3 linked regions of the Homo sapiens genome follow. The protein of the gene in region 1 purifies or fractionates together with the protein of each later gene. This does not show direct contact. Each region holds a gene or a part of one and is shown in the gene's direction. Other genes may lie near its edges. The genes, in order: CMIP, RILPL1 and GNA11.

Region 1 (4,164 bases):
ATCTCCTGGGCAGGCTGGATGTGAGTCTTCTTTCCTTGGTGAGGGATGCAGCCTGGGACCTGCCTTTCATCCCCTGCCTGAAACCCTGGCCAGGCTCGGGGAGAGGGTCCTCTGGGGAGCACCTTCATGCTGCCTGTTCTTGGGAGAGGGGGGGTGAATAATTTCCACCAACGGCACAGATGCTGTGGATATTCCGCAGTGTTCACGACGCAGTTCAACACACGCTGCACACATTCATGTGTTCACTACAGAGGCGCCTTCACTTAAAAAGGCAAAAATCTAGGGTTTTAACGTTATTAGCTGCAGGAGCACGTGGAGATAAGAAAACCTGGCTGAGGAGCTGAGCATTTGCTAGGTGGCCTTAGGTGCCGGCTGCTTGTGATGGCAGAAAGGGAGCTTTTTGCATCCAGGCTGCAGTTCCTGATACCCTGGGTCACAAGAGAATCGAATATGGTTCTCTCGTGGGCTGGTGCTGGGCCTGTGAACTCAGATAAAATGACCAGGTGGGGTCCCAGGGAAGGTGAAGTAGGGGGAGCTGCTGGGGTGCGCACAAGAGGGGTGGCTGTGTAGGTTGGGGGGTGCTTTAAGTGGGTTCCTAGAAGAGGCTCTGTCTCCCTGGGCAGAAGAAAGAAGGGGGATGGGCGGACCGTCCCCTCTCTCCAGAAGGTTTGAGGACCCCCAAGGCCAAAGCCAGCAGACGTCAAAGGCCAGGAGTTCGAGGCCGGCTGGGTCCCGCAGTGGGAGACAGGGCAGGGTGGGCTCATCCTCCGGATCACCGCGGGGACACTTTCAGTCGGGAAGGCGTCCCCGTCCCACGGCCCCATCTGGCCAGCCCGCTGGACAGCCTGGACAGCGGAGGGGGCGTCAGGGGTCGAGGGTTCCAGTCCCCGTCCTTCCACCCAGCCCCCGGCCCTCGGGTATCCTTCTTTACCCGTCCGAGTCCGGCCCGGGGGCGGCGGGGGTGGGTGAGGCGCGGGCCCCCAGGCTCCGGCAGCCTGGCTGGGCTCCCGCCCGGGCACCCGCGGGGGCGCGGCTGGCGTGACGTCACGCGCCCCGCCCCCGCGCCCCGCCCCCTCCCCACATTCCAGGCGGGGCGGGCCGGGACCCCGCGGGGCTCGCCCGCCCCAGCCCCCTCCCCAGGGGCTGCCCCTCCCGTCGGGCCGCGCCTCCCCGTCGTGGGCCGCGACCCCGCCCGGACCGCGGACTCCGCCCGCGAGAGGCCGAAGCCGCCGCGGCCGCCGCCGTTGCCGCCATTGACGTCAGAGGGGCGGGCACATGACCCTGCGGGGACCAATCGCGCGGGCGCCCCGGGCTCCGGGAGCCCGGCGCGCGGCCCGCCCCGCCCGCGGCCACTCTCGCCCGGACGGCCGCGCGGACACACGCTCTGTACACACGCGCGCGGCGGCGCGGGGCCCCGAGACACGCCCGCCCCCACCCCGCCGCCCCCACCCCGGCGCCCGCCCTCCGCGCCTGGCCCCGGCCCGCCCTCGGCCTCCCCCGCCCCTCCCCGTCGCCCGCCGAGCCCGGTCAGCCGCCGCGAGCATGCACCCGACGAGCTAGGAGGAAGCCCGGAGCCCCGCAGGAAGCGCCGAGGCCGGCCCAGCCCGCCGCACGCGCCGCCCCCCGCGGGCAGCGCCCCCTCCCCTGCGGGCGCCCCCAGCCCCACACCCCCCCACCTTCCCGGGGGGTGGGGGGGTGCGGGCCGCCGGATCCGGGGGCCCCGCCGCCCCAGCAGCCCAGGACAGCCCCCTCTCCCCGCCCCCAGCCCCCTCCCCCGGCGCGGCCATGGATGTGACCAGCAGCTCGGGCGGCGGCGGCGACCCCCGGCAGATCGAGGAGACCAAGCCGCTGCTGGGGGGCGACGTGTCGGCCCCCGAAGGCACGAAGATGGGCGCCGTGCCCTGCCGCCGGGCTCTTCTGCTTTGCAACGGGATGAGGTACAAACTGCTGCAGGAGGGCGACATTCAGGTCTGTGTCATCCGGCACCCGCGGACCTTTCTCAGCAAGATCCTCACCTCGAAATTCCTGAGGCGCTGGGAGCCGCACCACCTAACGCTGGCCGACAACAGCCTGGCGTCCGCCACGGTGAGTGGCTCTGCGCGGCTGCACCCCCGCCTCTCCTCGGGGCCCGAGATGCGCCCTCCCTGGCTGCCCCCTGGCGCTGCACCTGGAGCCCAGGGCCTGGGGGGCGGTGGGGGGTGCCGGGGGAACGGGGAGAACCAGGGCGCCTCGCTCCTGGCCTGCTCGCGGGGCTCGATTTTGGAGTCTGAAGCCCAAACCAGCCGACCGGGCTCAGGAGAGACCCTTAAAATGCTGGAGACTCGGCCCACCGCCAGGCTGGGTGCCTGGGGACCTTCTGCCCCCAGCTCTTGTGTTTCTGGTGGCTGGGACTCGAGGATGGACCCGACGCTGGGCCCTGATGGTGGTGGGGGTTCTCTCTGGAAGCCCCTGGCCCATCTGGATCTGAGGGGTGGGGGAGGGGAAAACAAAATACCACCCCTCAGATTTAAAAAAAAAAACAAACAACACAACAAAACCTCCAAACCCCCAAACCCAAAGAATTTCCAGAAGCCAGTTTCTCTGTTTGGTTTACCCGTCCTTTATTCTCTTTCCTGCCAGGGCTGGCAGGCAGAACGGGGTGCTTCCCTTTCTGAAAATCTCATTCGCACATTGAGAGGTTGGAAGTGGAGGGGGAGGGGGCAGTGGTCCTGGAATATCTCAGGACCCAGCGGTGGTCGAGTTCTAGCCTAGAAGCTGCTTGGTGGAGCCCTGGTCCGGCATTGTCTGTAGAGTGTGTGTATACGTGTGTGTTTTGTTGCTGGAGGTTTAATTTTGTTATTGTTTTTAAATACATGGGTAGGACTGGGTCAGCTGGATGAGTCGGAGAGGAAAAACCATTGATCTGTTTCTGAAATCAGATCTGCAAATGGTGGCCTTCTTCGTACGTGGAGAAAGACAGCTGTGGTGGGGTCGAGGGGAGAGTGGGGGTGGCGGGTAGGAGCCTGAACAGGATGCTTTGTGTTTTGAAACAAGGACAGTTTCAAATACCGGCTGTGGCTTGGGCCTGAGGCTTGCCGTGGGGGTCCCATCCTCATTGGGGGTGTAGCTTGTCTTCCCCAGAATGCACACTCCTCCCTGGGGCCACCGTGATCCTGTTTACTAAGCGCAGTGGGAGGGGGCCGAATCCACTGCCTGCCCACACCTGTGCCAAGAAAACCCAGCCAGGAAATAGGGTGTCGCTTACATGGCATGTCACAAACGTGTAGCGTGTGTAGACATTTCCCTGGCATCCATGTTCCCTTGGCGGTGTGTCACAGGCCATGACACATGCCCCAAGGAATGGGGAGGGGGGAAAAGTTAGCTGAAGAATCCTACTCTTTGAACCAGTCCCCCACCCCCCACCCCAGAGCGTTGCAGCCCTCGAGGACTTTTATTCTTAATTTGGGGTCCGACATGCTTAGAGCACCTATTTTCTCTTTCCTGTGGGCACGTTGGTGCAATATCTGCAAAGACTCCTTTTTCAGGGAGGATTGCTGGTCGCGGGGAGGCGGCCCAGTCCCCGGTCAGGCTGGTGCATGTTCTCAAGCCCGTCCCGCGCCACAGGCCGCAGCATTTGGCTTTCCAATGGATGGAGGCGGGAGAGAGCCTCCGAAAATTTGCCAGTACGGAGTGTTTCTGATGTGGGGAGGAACTGGTGACCGCGGTGCCCCCTGCCTGGATTCTGGAGACCCCAGATCTGGCTTCAGAATTTTCACCTGGCTCAGGGGGACTTTATTGGGCTTTTTTTTTTTTTTTCCTCTTACACTCCACAAAATGAAGGGTTGTTGGTGGTGGGGTAGGAAAATGGTTAGAAGGAACAGTGACCTGCCATGGGAAGGCCAGGAGGAGCCCCTTCTCCCTCTGGGAGAAGCCAGGAGTGAGTGTCCCGCTGCTACCGTCCTGTTTCCGGAAAGCCAGCTCTCGAGGCTAATGCCTCCCCACTTACCTCCGATTGCTCAGGAGGTATATCTGAGAGAAAGAGGGAAGGAAGAAAGACCTGAATAGCCAGAGGCCCCTCGCTCACCTTGGCCAGCCCAGGTAGGTGGCACCATCGGTAGTGTGGGCCTTTCCGGAAAGCACCTGTCTAGTACTGGGGACTGAGGCTTATCCATGGAGCAAGATTCT
Region 2 (3,541 bases), on another chromosome or scaffold:
CAAGTGATCCTCCCACCTCAGCCTCCCAAGTAGCTGGTACTACAGGCATGCACTACCACGCCCAGCTAATTTTTGTATTTTTTATAGAGACAGAGTTTTGCCATGTTGCCCAGGCTGTTCTCAAACTCCTAGCCTAAATCAATGCTCCCACCTCAGCCTCCTAAATTACAAGGATTATAGGTATGAGCCACCGTGCCATGCCTAAGATCCTTAACTTAATCATCTCTGCACAGTCCCTTTTGCCATGTAAGGTAACATATTCTCAGGGATTAGGACTTGGATGACTTTAAGAGCCATTATTCTCCCTGCCCCAGCCAGTTACACTTGACTGATATTCTCTGAGCCCCGTGTGAGCCCAGCCTATGCCAATTGGAAACAGAGAGGAACAGGGCTGGATGAGCCTCTTTCTGCTTCCAGGCCCCATCTGCTTATGGGAGGTCAACATTCCCTCTCCATCCCTCCACCACCACTTCCACCCCGGCCCTGCCCTTCACCTCCCCTGGTGACCTTGCGCCCTCTGTGCAAATACTAGGCTATTACTCCTCTCTTCCCCAATGCAGCAGGCTTCTGACAAAGGAGGTGGGTCTGAGAACTTATTTAGAAGATGGACAGAGGCCATGCCTAGCATCCGGCCACCTGGCCGCTTGTGATGAATTGTAGGGATGGGACAGAGATCAGCACACACATTGTTAGTGCTTTCTGGGTGCCGGGCATATTCCAGGCGCTTTACTTATAGTAACCATTTAATCCTCACACCCACCCTTCCCGGCAGATACCACACTAGTTTCCTCATTTGTGGGGCACCAGAAGGCTGAATAACTCGCCAAGGTCAGCTAGTAAGCAGCAGAAACAGGATTCAGACTTAGGGCGGCAGGCTCCAGTGTCCATGCCTTGAACCACTATTTTATTTTATTTTTTATTTATTTTATTTTAATTTTATTTTTTGACATGGAGTCTCATTCTGTGCCCCAGGCTGGAGTGCAGTGGCTTGATCTCGGCTCACTACAGCCTCTGCCTCTCAGGTTCAAGCAGTTCTCCTGGCTCAGCTTCCCAAGTAGCGGGGATTACAGGTGCCCACCACCATGCCCGGCTAATTTTTGTATTTTCAGTAGAGACGGGGTTTTGCCATGCTGGCCAGGCTGGTCTCAAACTCCTGACCTCAAGTGATCCGCCTGCCTTGGCCTCCCAAGGTGCCAGGATTACAGGTGTGAGCCACTGCGCCTGGCCCTTAAACCACTGTTTTATACAGACAACAGCAACCCTGCTTTGTGAGCTAGCTTACGGTTTTACCAAGTACCGTTTTTTTGTTTGTTTGTTTGTTTGTTTGTTTTTTGCGGGGGTGGAGGGCTACCAGCTTTATCAATATAATTCAGATACCATAACACTCATTTAAAGTGTACACTTCTGGCTGGGCACGGTGGCTCACGCCTGTACTCCCAGCACTTTGGGAGGCCAAGGTGGGAAGATTGCTTGAGCCCTGGAGGTTGAGACAAGCCTGGGCAACATAGCAATACCCCATTTGTTTCTTTTTTTTTTTTTTTTTTTTTTTTGAGACAGTGTCTCACTCTGTCACCCAGGCTGGAGTGCAGTGGTACAATCCCAGCTCACCACAACCTCCACCTCTGAGATTCAAGCAGTTCTCCTGCCTCAGCCTCCTGAGTAGCTGGGATTACAGGTGTCTGCCACCACACCCGGCTAATTTTTTGTATTTTTAGTAGAGACAGGGTTTCACCATATTGGTCAGGCTGGTCTCGAACTCCTGACCTCAAGTGATCTGCCCACCTCGGCCTCCCAAAGTGCTGAGGTTACAGGCATGATCCACCACACTCAGCCAGCAATACCCCATCTCTAAAAAAAAAAAAAAAAATTAGCCAGTCATGGTGGCGTCTGCCTGTAGTCCCAGCTACTGGGAGGCTGAGGTGGGAGGATCACTTGAGCCCAGGAGTTCAAGGCTGCAATGAGCTATAACTGTGTCACTGCACTCCAGCCTGGGTGACAGAACAAGACCCTGTCTCTAAAAATAAATAAATAAGATGTACACTTCAGTGGTTTTTAGAGTTTTGCAGCCGTCATTATGATCACCATCAATTTTATTTTATTTATTATTATTATTTTTTCCAAGACAGAGTCTCACTCTGTCACCCAGGCTGGAGTGCAGTAGCATAATCTTGACTCACTGCAAACTCCGCTTCCCAGCTTCAAGTAATTCTCCTGCCTCAGCCTCCCGAGTAGCTGGGATTACAGGTGCCCACCACCACACCCAGCTAATTTTTGTATTTTTAGTAGAGATGGGGTTTCGCCATGTTGGCCAGGCTGGTCATGGACTTCTGACCTCAAGTGATCCGCCTGCCTTGGCCTCCCAAGTGCTGGGATTCCAGGCGTGAGCCACCACGCCCTGCCACTATCAATCTTAGAACATTTTCATCACCCCCCAAAAGAAACTCCGTACCTATTCCCAGTCATTCCTCGTCTCCCCTCTAGCACTCTGGCTCTAGACAACCACCCGTCTGCTTCCTATCTCTATGGATTTGCCAATATTAGACATTTTGTAAAACTGATCATATAACATGTGACCTTTTGTGTCTGGCTTCTTTCCATAATGTTTTCAGGGTCCACCTATGTTGTAGCATATGTCAGGCTTTCATTCCTTTTCATGGCCGAATAATGTTCCATTGTATGGATGTGCCATGTTTATTTACCCATTCATCAGCTGATGGACACTTGGCTCCTTTTGGGTACTGGGAATAATGCTGCGAGGAACATTCACCTGCACGCGTTTTCATGTGGACATTGTGTTCATACCTCTTGAGCCGATCCAAGGACTGGAGTTGCTGGGTCCTATGGTAACTCTGTGTTAATGTTTTTGCGAAACTGCCAGAGTGTTTTCCAAAATGTCCGCAGCATTTTCCATTCCCACCAGCAGTGTAGGAGGGTTCCAGTTTCTTCCTATCCTTGTCAGCACTTGTTATTGGCTATTTCTTTGACTGCAGCCACCCACAAAATAACTTTAATAGACTGATTTTATTTATCCTCACATTCACTTCGTGAGCCTTTGTTTTGGTTCCACCACTGAGGGAAACTGAGGCTCAGGGTGATCGAGTCAGTGGTTGAAGACCCCATGGAGAGATACCTGGATCAGATACCTAAGGAACGCTGGGGCAGGGGGCCCCGTCTGCCTCGGCATCCCCAGGATTCTCGAGGCCTCTGGCTCCCTTGGAGAAAGGTTTGTCCCAACTGTCTGTCCAGAGATCAGGGGGTGTGCCCCCCAGAGGTTAGGAACGTTCGGACCCCCGTATCCTGGGGCTGCTCTGTCTACTCTGAAGAGAGCTCCAAGATGCGGCATTAGCTTTGTGGTTGTCCTTGGGGGCAGTTCTAACTGAGCCAGGTCCTAACAGCATAAACGCAGGCATCTGCCCCAAAGAAGGGTGGCTTCTGTTTCTTGCAGAGGTGCCATATGGGACTCGTGGTGGCCTTGCCGGCCCAGTTCTCACGAGGAAGGGGATGGCCCAAAGTCCCAGCAACCCAAGCTGCCCCTGAGGGT
Region 3 (4,269 bases), on another chromosome or scaffold:
ATGGTGGCGCGCCTGTAATCCCAGCTACTTGGGAGGGTGAGGCAGGAGAATCACTAGAGCCTGTGAGGCAGAGGGTGCAATGAACCTAGATCACGCCCCTGCACTCCAGCCTGGGCGACAGAGCAAGACTCCATCTCAAAAAAAGAAGAAGAAAAAAAAGATATCCCTTGGGTAGGGTTAGCTTAACGGGCTTACAGCAGTGCCTGGTATCCTGTAGGCATTTCATGAATGCGTATACCTGGCCTGGAATGGTGCAGGCACTGCAGTAAGGCCTGATTGACACCTGATGGACAGCAGGCACTCCATTAATCTCTGGTCCGTGCCTGGCATATAGAATGTGTCCCATTAATGCCTGATACACAGTAGGTGTCCCATTAACGCTTTTTAATTTTTTTTTTTGAGACAGAGTCTCGCTCTGTCGCCCAGGCTGGAGTGCAGTGGCATGATCTCAGCTCACTGCAAGTTCCGTCTCCCGGGTTCACGCCATTCTCCTGCCTCAGCCTCCCGAGTAGCTGGGACTACAGGCGCCCGCCACCACGCCCGGCTAATTTTTTGTATTTTTAGTAGAGACGGGGTTTCACCGTGTCAGCCAGGATAGTCTCGATCTCCTGACCTCGTGATCCACCCGCCTCGGCCTCCCAAAGTGCTGGGATTACAGGCGTGAGCCACCGCGCCCGGCCCTCTTTTTTTTTTTTTTTCTTTGGAGACGGAGTTTCGTTCTTGTTGCCCAGGCTGGAGTGCAATGGCGTGATCTCGGCTCACTGCAACCTCCGCCTCCTGGGTTCAAGTGATTCTCCTGCCTCAGCCTCCCGAGTAGCTGGGATTACGGGCGTGCACCACCACGCCGGGCTAATTTTGTAGTTTTAGTAGAGACGGCGTTTCTCCCTGTTGGTCAGGCTGGTCTCGAACTCCAGACCTCAGGTGATCCGCCCGCCTCGGCCTTCCAAAGTGCTGGGATTACAGGCGTGAGCCACCGCGCCCGACCTCCATTAACGCTTTTTAATGGATGAGTGAAGGTTCCTGTCAGGCAATGTCAGGGCGCTTCCCGGGGGCAGCGACTGCTGCCCAGGCACCTGGAGACCCAGAGAGCGCAGCGGCCGCGTGCGCGCCTCCGCCACCGCGCCTGGGCCGAGCCGAGCGGGACCGAGCGGGGCCGAACGGAGCCGAGCGGAGCCGAGCCTGGCCGGGCCGAGTCCGCCACATTCCCACAATCCCGGGCGGCCCCGCCCCGGCTCCCGGCTGCGCGTCCCCCTTCCCACGTCGGCGCAACCAAACCCGCGGGCCCCCCGCCCTCGCCCCGCCCCGCCCCTTTCGCGCCCGCCGACGCCCCGCCCAGGCCGCTAGTCCCGCCCCCATGGTGGGCGCGCTTGGCCGCCGGCCCCTCCCATTGGCCGCACCGTCTGCCCGTCGCGGGCTGCGCTCCCAGCCTGCTAGGTTGTCCGGCGCTGTCGCTCGGTTGCGGCGGCTGCGGTTGGCGGTGGCTGCGGCGGCGGCGCGGGCTGAGTGCGGCCGCGCGGGAGTCCGCGGCTGGCGCGGCCCGAGCGGGGACCCGGCGGCTCGCCAGGCGGCGGCCGAGGCGGGGCGGGCCGGCCCGGGGCCGAGGGCCGGTGGCCGAGGCCGGAGGGCCGCGGCGGGCGGCGGCCGAGGCGGCTCCGGCCAGGGCCGGGCCGGGGGCCGGGGGGCGGCGGCGGGCAGGCGGCCGCGTCGGCCGGGGCCGGGACGATGACTCTGGAGTCCATGATGGCGTGTTGCCTGAGCGATGAGGTGAAGGAGTCCAAGCGGATCAACGCCGAGATCGAGAAGCAGCTGCGGCGGGACAAGCGCGACGCCCGGCGCGAGCTCAAGCTGCTGCTGCTCGGTGAGTGCGGCCCCCGGGCCTGCCGGCTGCGGGCCCTGCCCTGCCTGTGCCTGCCCTGCCTGTCCGGGTCGGGCCGGGACCCTCCGGGGTCAGCCCTGCCTGTGCCGTCCGGGTCGCGAGACCCTCCGGGGTCAGCCCTGCCTGTGCCTTCCCTGCCTGTCCGGGTCGCGGGACCCTCGAGTGTCAGCCCTGCCTGTGCCTTCACTGCCTGTCCGGGTCGGGGCGGGGCCCTCCGGGATCAGCCCTGCCTGTGTCGTCTGGGTCGGCTCGGGACCCTCTGGGGTCAGCCCTGCCTTTGCTGTCTAGGTCGGCACCTGGGACCCTCCGGGGTCAGCTGCGGGCCCCTGATTTCTTTGGGGTCAGCCCCTGCCTTAACTGTTCATGTTGGCACCTGGGACTCTCCGGTGTCAGCCTGTGTCTGTCCTGTCTGGATCAGGCCCCCGATCACTCCTAGGTCAGCTCCCAGCTTCTGCTGTCTACATTGGGCCTCCAGGACTCTTCAGGATTTGCCCTCTGTTCCTTCTCAAGGGACCAGTCCCTCCCTGCACAGGGACCTTCTGACCTTACCCCACCGGAGTACCCACCCCTCGCTACCCCTTCAGGGCCAGACCTTTGGGCTGTAACCCACAGGGCACACTCACCCCTCACTGCTCAGGGCCCCGCGTTGACCCTTCCCTCCAGGCAGAGCCCTGTACACTCCATGCAGGCCCTGTACCCTCCATGCAGGCCCTGTACACCCCCCCATCCCCCCGAAGACTCCTCCGTGTCCCCTATCCCCACATTCCCTTCAGGGCCATTCTCCTGCCTTCCTGTTCCGGGAAACCCCGTACTCCTCTTGGCTGGAATGCACCCTGTGGGAAAAAGACAGTCTTTCCTCTCCTCAGGGTTCCGCTCAGCTGAGGGTGGGGCGGTTGACACCTGAGGGAGCCTTTGCTTGTTGTCCCAAGCAGCTATCTCGGCAGCCTCCCCCGCCCCCTTCCTTAGAGTCCTGGTGGGAGCCACGCTGAGTCCTCGTTGAGAGCAGCCCCCCACCTGCCGGCTCCTCCCCACCGTCCTGGAGAAGGTTTGCTGGTGAACCTCCTTCTCCCCAAGGCACACCTGCTGCAGGGAGCCAGTCGGGCCAGCTGTAAAGTGTTGTCACTCCAAATAAGGGCCCCTTCAGTGGTTTACAAAACAGAAGCTCTTGCCCTGCCCCGCCCCTGCCCTCCCGAGCTCCTAGGTTAGCTCCTGGGCCGGGGGCGGGGCGGTGGGGAAGGTCGGAAATGCGTGAGAGGCAGCGGTGACGGAGGAGGGGGCGTGCTGGTGGCGGTGGCTCTTGGGGAGGAGGCAGGTCGCATGTTGTGTGGGGAACACGTTGCCTCTCCTGCCGTGAGCCTCTTAGGGCCCTCCGTGTCCCGGGTTACAGAGGTGCCTTGGATGAAACGCCTTCCTGATTTTTTTCCCCAAACTTGTGTTTTGATTTACCTAAGGGTTCTAAAATGGGCCATCTTTCCAGGGGGCCGCGGGTAGGCAGAGCCGTGGTCCTCACGTTTGGAGGAAATGTGCAGTGCGGCCCGCGTGGTGGCACTTTGCACAGAGTGGCACTGGCTGGCTTTTGTAGTGGGTCGTGGACTTTGTTTGGATGGAGGGGAGTTAGGAATTACTGGTGTCATAAAGATCTTACCAGATGGCCTTGCCCTGTGGCTCTGTGACCTCCAGAACCCCCGCCGCCATCCCTGCATGCACCCGGTCTTCTGTGCCTGCACTTTGGACTTGAGATTGACACGGGGTTCAAGGACGAAGGTCAGGGGCTCCCGTGTCTGCCGCCTTGGCTGCTTGGAGCAAGTCTGGAAGTGATGCGGCCCTTCCCGCATCCTCTGTCCAGTGCCCGCCTGTGGCCCGGGGGTGTCTGCTGCAGGAGCACCTGTGTCTGCAGTCCCACCCCCTCCCACTCTGTGAGCCTGAAAGTTGACCCCTATCAGCCTGTAAGACGGGAGGTTGCTGTCAGGCTCAGGGCCAGGCGTGGCAGATAGGACAGTGAGGAAGATGTGAGCTCACGTGCGACCCAAGGAGGACTGGTGTCAGTGCCACGCAGAGAGCCGGGGCTGTCAGGGGGTTGGGAGGGCTTCACACCCAAGGTGTTGGAGCCAGGGACCCCTTTGGGAATCTGATGCGACAGACCCTCAGAAAACTTCCCGTCCAAGCAACCTTGCATCCCAGCTGGAGGGCCCCTTGCTGGGAGGACTTTGACCACCTGAGGTCCAGGGGCTGGGGCCTCAGGGTGCAGGGGAGGGGACCTCTGTCAGGCTCCCTGCCTGCTTGTGGGAACTCATTCCACTCTCCCAGTAGGCCAGCCCCGAGCTTGCGATTGCCCCCGTTTTTCAGGGAGCAGCTAGAGGGTGGGGCCGAGGCTCCCCGGAAGGAAGGGGCTG

What was found.
Region 2: the proteins of CMIP (region 1) and RILPL1 purify together in Homo sapiens (affinity purification with mass spectrometry; one large-scale study listed by BioGRID and IntAct). This does not show direct contact.
Region 3: the proteins of CMIP (region 1) and GNA11 purify together in Homo sapiens (affinity purification with mass spectrometry; one large-scale study listed by BioGRID and IntAct). This does not show direct contact.

Annotation. Positions count from the first base shown.
Region 1 is NC_000016.10:81,443,457-81,447,620, forward strand, and holds the start of CMIP (C-Maf-inducing protein), read left to right. Parts: upstream 1-1,351; 5' UTR 1,352-1,785; coding exon 1,786-2,085; intron 2,086-4,164. UniProt on the Homo sapiens protein: Plays a role in T-cell signaling pathway. Isoform 2 may play a role in T-helper 2 (Th2) signaling pathway and seems to represent the first proximal signaling protein that links T-cell receptor-mediated signal to the activation of c-Maf Th2 specific factor.
Region 2 is NC_000012.12:123,523,710-123,527,250, reverse strand, and holds part of RILPL1 (RILP-like protein 1), read left to right. Parts: intron 1-2,292; exon of another isoform or gene 2,293-3,223; intron 3,224-3,541. UniProt on the Homo sapiens protein: Plays a role in the regulation of cell shape and polarity. Plays a role in cellular protein transport, including protein transport away from primary cilia.
Region 3 is NC_000019.10:3,092,930-3,097,198, forward strand, and holds the start of GNA11 (guanine nucleotide-binding protein subunit alpha-11), read left to right. Parts: upstream 1-1,432; 5' UTR 1,433-1,722; coding exon 1,723-1,858; intron 1,859-4,269. UniProt on the Homo sapiens protein: Guanine nucleotide-binding proteins (G proteins) function as transducers downstream of G protein-coupled receptors (GPCRs) in numerous signaling cascades.